2 separate regions of the Homo sapiens genome follow, and region 2 is linked to region 1. Evidence: fine-mapped expression QTL. A gene starts in region 1. The other region holds a variant in brackets. All regions are shown on one strand. Distances are between the middles of the regions. Region 1 holds the start of CNGA3 (cyclic nucleotide gated channel subunit alpha 3). Region 2 overlaps CNGA3 (cyclic nucleotide gated channel subunit alpha 3).

The links. PIP is the estimated chance that this variant, and not a neighbour inherited with it, causes the effect.
Region 2: its variant is fine-mapped to the expression of CNGA3 in testis (GTEx, PIP 0.94).

Annotation. Positions count from the first base shown.
Region 1 is chr2:98,344,091-98,349,610 of GRCh38, forward strand. It overlaps CNGA3 (cyclic nucleotide gated channel subunit alpha 3), which reads left to right and starts at 2,366. Exons shown (of 8, transcript NM_001298.3): 1 at 2,366-2,444. RefSeq lists an enhancer at 2,866-3,377.
Region 2 is chr2:98,384,850-98,389,849 of GRCh38, forward strand. CNGA3 (cyclic nucleotide gated channel subunit alpha 3) reads left to right here. Exons shown (of 8, transcript NM_001298.3): 6 at 4,809-4,925. Among named protein-coding and RNA genes, the nearest start is that of CNGA3, 41 kb to the left of the region's middle. RefSeq lists a silencer at 3,249-3,436. The variant G/T (reference allele first, on the strand shown) is at 2,861.

The DNA.
Region 1 (5,520 bases):
ACTGGTCTCATCAGGCTCCCTGGCTCCAGACTTCCTCAGCTCCTGGGTGCTACTCTTTTCCCCACAGACCCCTCCCCACTTCCTTAGTGTCCTGGCTGAGGCTGAAGCAACTTAGCATTCACCTGGCCCCCACCCCCTTCCTCCCACTCTCACCTGCTCTGTCAGAAAGAGGAGATGGTGCTTTCTCCATAGCTCTCTTCTTCCTGTGGTCTCCCTATTCTAACAAACACCAAAAGACTTTGGGTTTCTGAGAATCGCGCTCCTTGGTCTCTTAGTGCCATGGGCCTGTTAGAGCATCCCACTAATTTATTCAGAGGTTGCTGTATCCTGCATCTTCACAAAATCTTGCTGTCCCTTCCACACTCGACCATGCCTCAGTTGAAGCTTGAGCAATAATTGGAAAGGTCCCCAGAGGCCACTCCATTGAGTGAGCATTGGGCCAAATCTGGACCCTCCATCATGGCAGCCTAGGATCTTGCAGCTCGATGACTTTTGCAGGCAAATTCACAGATACATCCCCTTCAGTCTCTTTCCATTCATTTCCAGTCTCTTCATCTGTTTCCACTTTTCAGACACCCAAAGTTCTTCAATGATAACTATTGCCACATACATCATTCCCTAGGGGCCAACTATGTGCCCATTTCTGTGCTAAACACTCTATCTCATTTCATCAGACTCAGGACACTTCTCCATTTCTTGATTAATTCTGTGAGGTCTTGTTTTCCCCTTCAAATCTTAGGAATGATGTGCATTTCAGAAACAAAGTCCAAGGGGATTTTTCAGGATGATGCCTTAAAATGATCTCATGATCACTACTATTTACTCCAAAATCAGGATTTAAGATTCTTTTGAAACTCTGAAATGTTTCTGGACAACAGAAAATAATCATCTGCTTCCAGTCTTCCCTGAGGACAAGCCAGCAGGAAACAGCTTTAACTTGTTGCATAAATTAATGAGATTAGAAGAAATAAAGCATTTCCTGACAATGAGAACTATAAAAAAAATGCACATAACAACTGAGGCACGTGGAGATTCATAATTGAGGCACGTGGAGATTCCCTGGAATAAGAATACTGAAGTCCTCAATGAGGCAAAGTCTCATCTATTATATTTTCTCTTGAAATTATTATAATTTCAGGTTCCTTTCAGAAGCCCAAGTAATAAAATAAGAATTCTCCTCTCTTCCAACTTCTGTGGCTTTGGCTTCCTTTTGTTGATTCACCACTTCCATTTATTTGCTCTTCCACTACCAGAGTCCCTTGAATCTGAACGACTAAGCCTGATTTTCTTTGGGGGAAAATTTGTCTAGGTTTTACTTCCCCCCTTTAAGACATGACATGTGTGCACACATGCACATGTGTGTGTGAGCCATTCTAATTCTTTATTTCTTCAGTGAAAAACATACACTTCATCTCTCCCTTCAAGTATTGCATGAACTCGATGAACTTAAGCCTTCTAAAGATAATGTGTTCAATTAACAGGCGATTTGATAAGTATGCTAGGAAATGCCATGTACTCCAAGTCCTCAGAGAAGCTCTGGTTAGCTGGCTGCGGTGGGATCTGCTTTTGTGGAGTTTCTTCCCATGAGGGTATCAGTCAAGAGAACCTGGAACCCAAGAGGCTTGTCCCAGGCAAGGAGGCTTGGATTCCTCCCGGGACCTGCTCCTGCGATCCAGAACCAGAGCATGCAATTGCTGGTGAGGGAAAGGCAGGATTCGGTCTTCATCCTTCATGGAGAGGTGTGTTCTTGGAAGTACACCTTCTGGGAGGAAAATGAGTTTTAGTAAATAAAGTTATTTTCTCCAAAAAGAGTTTAAGTTCCTTGGGCTTCAATAGGGGTTAAATAATTACTAGCTGGATTGGTGGTTTTAATTTTTAGTTCAGGAAATCCGATGTTATCTGATGTGATGGAAGGAAACAAAAACTCTGCAAGGAGAATACACATTGTCCCAAAGAGAAACTTGTTTCTAACATCTTCCCTAAGATGGCAAACGGGTCCAAGACTTTGTGCGTGTGTGTGTGTGTGTGTCCCCACCTTTAAACTTCAAACCCCAGATCTCTGTTGCTTACTCATCCAGTGTGGATTACACTACCAGCAAAACATCCCAGGAAGGAGTCCAGGGTGGCCGCCCACAGTTAGGAGAGAACCCAGAACGGAACGACGGACTTGTTTGCTTTCTTGCCCCTGACTCTCCCCGTCCTCCCTGGGAGGGTTGGGGATGTGAACTAATGACTTCTGCCTCTTTCGGACCGCCTTTGAGGCTCCAGAGCCTCACCTTACTTTCCCACGGAGAGGGAGGCCACAGGCTCCTTCAGCAGTCGCCGAGCAGAGTCCTGGGCCGGGAGCGCGGGGGAGGGAGCGAGCGGAACTGCGCCTAGGAGGCCGAGGGAGGAGGCGCTCCGCAGACCCTGGCGCGCCGCGGAGAAGCTCAAACTTTGGCAGGGTAAGGATTTTTAGGGGCTCTTGAGCTGGAATTTTTTGGGGGGCGCCGGGAGGTGTGCTGGGGCCGCAGACCCCATACAGGAGGTAAGTTAGAGAACCACACGCAGGGGAGGGATGCTGCTGCTTCCAGGGGCGGGCGCGGCGCTGTCCGCAGCCCCCGGTGCTGAAACGGGCCGCGGGCTGGAGAGAAAGTGAAAAAGGATCGGCTACGGCCTCGGCTCCCACTCCCCGGCTCCCATACCCCTCCAGTCCAGTTCAAAGGACAGGAAGCCCTCCCCGTGCTCCCCAAGCCGATCGCACCCCCTTTTACTCACGTCCCACAGCCGCGCTGGGCCGAGCCCGCTGAGCCGTCGGGGCGGGAGGCAGAAGGAGCAGGGCTGGCTCCCGCTGGGGACGGGTAGGGCTTGCAGCCGCGACCCCACCCCATACATTTCCTCCTGTCACGCTGTCCCCGGACCGCCAGTCCGGGAAGGACCCACTTCCCCGGCTCCAAGTCGGGAGCGGGCGCCGCGTCTTCTCGAGTCCGCGCCGCGCCGGGGGAGGTTGAGTCAGTGGCCTGGAGGGAGCAGGGCCGGGGGAAGGCAGCGGCGAAGGACTGCCCCCCAACCCAGGGGACTATTTTCCCTTGGGGATTCAAAGAGAAAGGTAGGCTGAGGAGGAGGCGAGAATTAAAATTCTTTTAGGAGTGCGCGGTTACTTTTTTTAATGATAAAATCACACCCGGGATCTCGGACGCCCGGGGCTTAGTGCTCGGTGATGGAGGAGAAGGGGCGGCGGGCTCTCTGATCCTCTGCAATCCCCTAACCGGATAAAGGCGCCGGGCTCCCAGCCGTCAGGCTTTTCTCTTTAGCTCAGCCCGCGGCCCCTCCCGACGCCCCTGGGGGCCTTGGCGCGCAGGCCCTCGCAGTCCCGCAACCCCGGGCCGGGTGATTCATTTTTCTCCCTGTGTAATCTCCCTACTGAGCGGCGCAGCTGGGACTTTAACTTCGGCCCTCTGCAGCGGGGGTCTCCGGTTGGCGCGGCGCGTGAGGGAGGATGAATGGCGCTGGAACCTAGAGGACCTGGAGCCGGCGCCCCGGCCTCTTTGGCCTGAACCAGGTGCCTCTGACACGCAGTCCGCCGGCTCAGGCCTCGCCGGAAGCTGGCGGGAGCAGTCCCTTGCAGCGAAGCCCGGCACCCCGACGGCAGACGCTCCCCATCACATCTTCCAAAGGGGCGAGGCTGGGATCAGCAGGAATGGCACCCACCCGGGTTCAGACTCCATCCCGGAGTGGACAGCTCGGTGCCCCTAACATTATGCACTGTCCGCCACCCCCTCCCCCCAACACATACACACTTTCATTCATGAAAACCAGCAAGAATAGTGCTGTCTGGGCACGGAGTCCAATGTACAGCGTGCGTTCACGCTGAGAATTCATGGGGGACGCGGGTGGTTGGGCCGGGAGAGGAGAGATGGTCACTTGTGTGTGGTATCCACCAACTGGGTCTTCTACGCCAGAGTCCCAGTTGTAGAAAAGTCGGCCAGGTCAGAGGACCCAGATGGGATTTCACTAAGCTGGTGGGAGCTTCTTTGCGTTCTTTGGGGTAGGGGGAAGGACAGGAACTCCCCCTGCTTCGCACCAATGCCCAAACACCGCACTTCCTCTTCAGCCTCGGTTCAGCCACAGAGAGGGGCCTCCTCCTGTGTAGATGCCCGGAGGGGAGGAGCGGTGGTTCTTGGGGTGACTGGCTGGTGGAGGCAGGATCTTAATCACTTTAGCTGGGACTTTGGCCGTGACTACGTGTGCACTTGCCTTTGATGCTCCTGTTTCTATGTCTTTTCTGTCCTCATTCACCATCTGCTAGTGGTGGCTGCCTCTGATTAATATTGAGGTTGCCATGGCGACCAGTCTCCAGTCGCCATGGTACCCAGAAGGTAAACAGTTGGAAGCTACTCAGGCTCTTTCCAGCTCTGGCCGCTAGTTTCCCTAGGGAGTGGGGCGGGGACGGCAGTGACCAGGTTCCAGAACCCTTCTCCGTCCCGCCCTCCCCTTCCTCCCTCATTCCCACAGCGTCCTGCTCACCTGAAACCCCTGCTAATCCCCCACCAACCACTGTGGCCTCAAGGTTGAGATGGGCCATGCTTTTTTCTCTACTGAGGCTGGGGGTAAACAGTTTTCTCTCTGACCTAATGCATTTTGGTAACACCCTGAATATTTCTGAGTACAAAGGACAAGGCTCAGTCTGGTGGGAGAAACAAAATTTTAAACAGACACAGTCCCTGCCCTCTGGGACCTCACAGTGTAGTGTGGCAGACAAACCCTTGTGCAACCTACCAGGTGGCCTGCATTCCGGGTGTAAATGGAGGTGATAACAGAGCCCTGAGAGTTGAGAGAGGTGGGAGTGACTGACTCCTGGTCAGGGTAGGCCTCCCCAGCAAGGTTATGTTGCAACTGAAACTTGAAATCAACTGGCCAGCAAGAGAGGAAAATCTCTCTAGGCAGAAGCAAGGATGTGTGGATTAGTCAGGAGAGAGTAAGGCCCTGCTGTGGTGACGTATAGACTTGGAATATCTTGGTGGCTTCTCCCTTTGCTTATGCAATGTCTGATTTTTTGGGGAGTCCTGCATCATGGGGGGAGTCCACTTGCCAGAACCCGTCACTCAGCCTTCACCTGGCCTGAAAGGGAGGCTGGAAAATGCAGGAGGCACAAGATGGGCTTTGGTGAGCACTGTCTCTGCCAGTAGGTGGGGGCAAAAAAAAAACCAAATGTACAATACACATAAGGGAAGGGTGAGTAATTTGGCTTAGATGAGCATCCAGTTTAGGCTCACTTGATCCAAATTATGAAAAGTCTTGACCATCAGGCTAAGAAATGGAGACTGCGTGCTGGAGAAAATAGGCACCTCTAAAAGCTTCTGAGAAGAGTGACATAATTAGAACTACCTTTCATAAAGATTCTGGGGTCACTATGGAAGGTTCATTCATTTACACATTTATTCATTCTATACTCATTGAGCACCTCCTTAGTGCCAGAGAATGGATGGATTGTAGGAGTGACAGCCTGAAGATGGGAGATGAGCAAAGATAACTATTTCA
Region 2 (5,000 bases), 40 kb after region 1:
TCACTGGTCCACTTTGAAGCCAAGGACCAAGGGACAAAACTGGGAACTATCCCAAAATGAGGACACACACAAAATAATTATTTATGAACACCTTCCCCGACTCTTCACTCCATTTCTGTCATTTTCATATGGTCTCATTTGTCCTGAATAATTTTTCCCTCCCCCATCAAACTGTTCCCAGCCAAAACCAGCAGCATTTTGCAGTTCTGTGTAGGGTTCTTTTGGGGCAGTGCTGGGTGGATTTGGGGATGCAGCCGATGGTGCTGGGTCTTTCCTAGGCTCTCAGCAGTTTGGTACCCAGACAGGCCAAGGCCCGTAATCCAGGGCCACAAATCTTGCACAAGGCAAGCTGAGTCCGGCGTAAACTGCAGGGCAAAGCTCACCCAAAAAGCTTGAGGGCAGCGCCGTCTGCTGGTGACTTGACGTTAAGACTCCAGTGCCTGAAAAGAGACCAGGGTTCACATCACCCTGGAGGACAGAGGAGGGGTAACTTTCCTTGCTCTTTTCATTTAATGATTTTAATAACCTTTTATTCTAATTCACTTTATTGAAATACTCTTGCTGAAAACTTGGAAAACAAGAAAAGCACACAGGGGCATACACACACAAAAACTGCACTTCATGCTAACCATGGAATTCCACTATCAGAGATAGCCCCACTTAACATGTTGACAAATATACTTCCAACTTCTTCCTAGGCATATATATTGAATACTTAGATTGATACAATATATTTTATATATACATATACTTGTTAAGAGCATCTGTTTCCCAACTCAGTTGCCTCAGAGCTTTGTGACCTTGGACAAGTGTATTAGTCCATTCTCACATTGCTAGAAAGAAATGCCTGAGACTCGGTAATTTATCAGAAAAGTGGTTTAATTGGCTTGAGGTACTGCAAGCTATACAGGAAGCATAGCAGCTTCTGCTTCTGGGGAGGCCTCAGGAAGCTTTCAATCATGGTGGAAGGCAAAGGGGGAGCAAGGAGTCTCAAACGGCAGGAGCAGGAGGAAGGTGGGGTAGGTGCCGTAAACAACCAGATCTCAAGAAAACTCACTCACTGTCTCAAGCAAAGCACCAAGGAATTGGTGCCAAACCATGAGAAATCCACCACCATGACAGGGACACAGATTCAAACCACATAAGCTGGTTACCTAACTTCTCTGTGTATCTGTTTCCTGGCTTATAAAATAAGGATTGTAATAGGGTCTTATTACATGGTGGGAGTGAAGACTGAATGTGTTACTCTGTGAAAAGTGCTCAGAACAGTGCCTGGTACATAGTAAGTGCTCAATAAATATTGACTTGTGTGGTAGGCAGAACAATCTCCCCCAAAAGATGTCTACCATCCTAATCCTTAGAACCTGTAAACAGGTTACCTCATATGGCAAAGGGAACTTCGTAAATGTGATTACATTCAAGGTCCTTGAGATAGGTAATGATTTGACTTGGCTGTGTCCCCACCCAAATCTCATCTTGAATTGTAGCTCCTCTAATTCCCATGTGTCGGGACAGATCTGGTGGGAGGTAATTGAATCATGGGGGTGGGTCTTTCCCATGCTGTGAATAAGTCTCACGAGATCTGATGGTTTTGTAAAGGGGAGTTCCCCTGCACAGACTCTTTGCGTGCCGCCACGTAAGATGTGACTTTGCTCCTCATCTGCCTTCCACCATGATTGCGAGGCCTCCCAAGCCATGTGGAACTGAGTCCATTAAACCTCTTTCCTTTATAAATTACCCACCCTCGGGTATGCCTTTATTAGCAGCATGAGAACAGACTAATACAGGTAGGTTATCCTGGATTATCAGGGTGGGCCCACTGTAATCACATGAGTCCTTAAAAGCAGAAGAGTGGGTCAGAGAAAGTAAATGGAAGAAGAAGAGAGTCACAGTGTGAGGGGGACTCGACCCATCACTGCTGGCTTTGAAGATGTAGGAAGGGGACCTGAGCTAAGGAAGCCACAGCCTCGAAAGGTGCAGCCAGCAGGGAAACAGGGATCTCAGCCCCACAATCGCAAGAAGCTGGATTCTGCGTAAGATCCAAACGAGCAGGAATCAGAGCCCCGCCTAGAGACTCTGGGGGATGGCAGCCCTGTCAACACCTTGATTTTAGTCTGGTGAGATCCACAGTAGACTTCTGACCTACAGATCTGCAAGATAATACATTTATGTTGTATAAGTTTGCAGTAATTTGTTCCGGCAGAAATAGAAAACTGATCCAGCTATTACGGTAAACTCTTTTGTAGTCTGCTTCTTAACTTAGCAAAATATTAGGAACCGTTTTCCCACGTCACTAGCTCTTCTGAAACAGCGTTTTAAGTGGCCATGTAGAATTCACCGTTGAGGATGAGCCTGCATGGTCGTGTGATTCGGTGGCTCTCCCTTTTTGATTGTCATGAATAATGGCAGTGATTATTTTTCCACACGTATCGCACACAGCCTTGATTATTTCCATAGGAAGTGTTAGGTAATTGTGAATGGATCTTTTTCAATGAGTGTTTAATTAGCAGAATTTATCTCTCAACCATGCCTTCCTTCAGCGTGTGGAAGAGAGAAATCAGAGGGGCCTGAAGGGGACTCGAGGGGTTGTCCCTTCCGCAACCTTTGTTTCTTCAACTATTCAATGGGGCATTACTGCCTGCCTTGAAGAAATTTACATGTATTCATTAGATAACTTTATAAGAGTTCCTAGCTCTTAAAAGACACCCAATAAAGAAGAGGCAGCAGTGTGAAGTCTTATGTTGAAGAAAAACCTGCAGTCACAGGACCATCCTGCGGACGCTGCCTGAACCGTCTCGCAGCCCAGCAAAGTCCGAAGGCGTGTCTGAACTCGGCCACATTTGCGAACCTGCGACCACAC[G/T]TATTTGCCACTACATGCGTCACAGACCCGCCTCTTCGAATGTTGCTTCCCTTCTGCTCACTGGCTTTCTCATTAAGGCCCAGGTTTTCACTTGATCCAGAGAGAGGTTTCAAGAACAGCGGACAGGCCACACCCTTCCATTCAGAACGGAGAGCCTGGCGTGGGATTTCCAAAACTCCGAGTAACTTTCCCAACTTCAATGTGTGGATTTGGGTCTATGTCGTACTACCTCAAAACGTCTCCAGTCTCTGGCTGTTTGTGACTTCCCAGGAGCTCATGAAAATAGATCAGAAATTGTAGAACATTAGACTGAGCCACTAATTTCTCAATGTATACTCAATGGGGTGGTTTACCTCACGCTTCAGGAATAATAATAACAAATCAATAACCCCATTTCATCCCAATGCGCTGGAAGCACCCCTTGCCACGCCCTCTCTTCAGGACGTCTCCACGACGCCACACGCCACGCCCTCTCTCCGGGACGCAGCAGCCTGCCCCTTCCATTTGGTAATGTCCTTGATATATGAAGTCTGCTAAATGTGCCCCGGCATCATCCAGCAGCAAGGCAGAAAAGAACGAAGAGAAAAAAGAAGAGAGAAAAGCTACCTAAAACACGAGGAGGAAGTACTGAAGGAAGCTGCCTCTAAAGACGGGGTGCCATGGTCCCAGCAGGCCTGACCCCTCCCTGCAGGGCTCCAGGGCTGGGTATCTTGGAGCAACGCTATCAGGGGGCCTTAGCTTCGGCCCTGGAGGGGAGAGGGTGCTTGGAGCTGAGGAAAAGTCGGTCCCAGCAGGCTGCAGACCATGCCTCCTGAGACCATGTGAAGCCCCCATCTTGCAGAAAGAATCCTCTCCAAGCTCCGGGAACTCAAGGGGGGCTTATAAGTAAAGAGAGTTGCTTGTCTGCAGCCTCCGGTGGGCAGCCGGGGGCTGCCCCTGTGAGCCTGCTCATGTGCCCCCCACCCGAAGCATTTCGTTTGCCCTCACAAGTGGGCCGGCCACACGTAGGCTGAGGGCTTCTCTGGGGCACTGGAAGATACAATGTTCACAAACTTTCACCCAAATTCAGTGGTGATGAGAGCTGTAGGGAACGTCCCAAAGCCCGGTCAGTGAGTGACCTTGCACTTGCAGCATCCAGGTGAAGGCAGGAAGTCACTGGGGTCTCCGATGGAGCACAGGAGCACTCTGCAGGCCTGGGCCAGCGTGGGTCGCATGGGATGGCAGAGGGGACACATGGACCCAACAAAAAGGCAGTCTCCAGTACAGCCTGTAAACTTGAATCTGCGGGAAATTCTAAGAATAAAAGTTAAGCACTCTAAGCTATGTATTTCATTCCGTGCGGGCCCACGTGACAGGTTATTCCCAGGCTTTTGATGGAGAGGTGTGATGCAAGCCCTTGGAAATGAGCCTTTACATCGTCCGCACAAACACAGTGAGGGAGGTGGAGAGGGTTCTGGAGGGAATACTGTGGGGCTCCCCAACTCTGTCCAGAGAGGGGCTGCCTCAGAACTATCCAGGCAATGCTTAAATGCATATTTCCAGGCCCAGCCCTGGAAGAGGTGAGTGGGCCCTGGGAATCAGAATTTTCTGGAAGTTCCCCAGACTTTAGCAGACCTCTGTGACATTGCCATGCTGCGTTTTCATTCTCAGCATCCTGAAGGGTGTGGATGTTGTCGTGGGCACATGGGAATGTCATCACCATTACCTTATAGTCGACCGTGACCTCCTGGGACTGAGCTGGGAGAGAAGGACCTCTGGAGTCTACCCTACCTCCTGGCCTGCCTTCCCCTACAGGGACTCCCCATGTGACTCCCTTGAGACTAAGAGGACCCTGTTGTGGACAGCCACATCTTGGGCTTCAGCCTGAAATTGCCCTAGGCTCTCTAAAACCCTCCAAAGCTACAGTCTTGGAGCACAGTGCGCTGTTTGTGTATGTGTGGGTTTCCAGGAAGAAGACGAAAAAGAAGGATGCGATCGTGGTGGACCCGTCCAGCAACCTGTACTACCGCTGGCTGACCGCCATCGCCCTGCCTGTCTTCTATAACTGGTATCTGCTTATTTGCAGGTAAGCGACAGGGGTGGAAGGTGCAGCGGAAAGGGGGAAACCAGGGCACCAGGCCCAGGAGCCAGAGCTCCACCT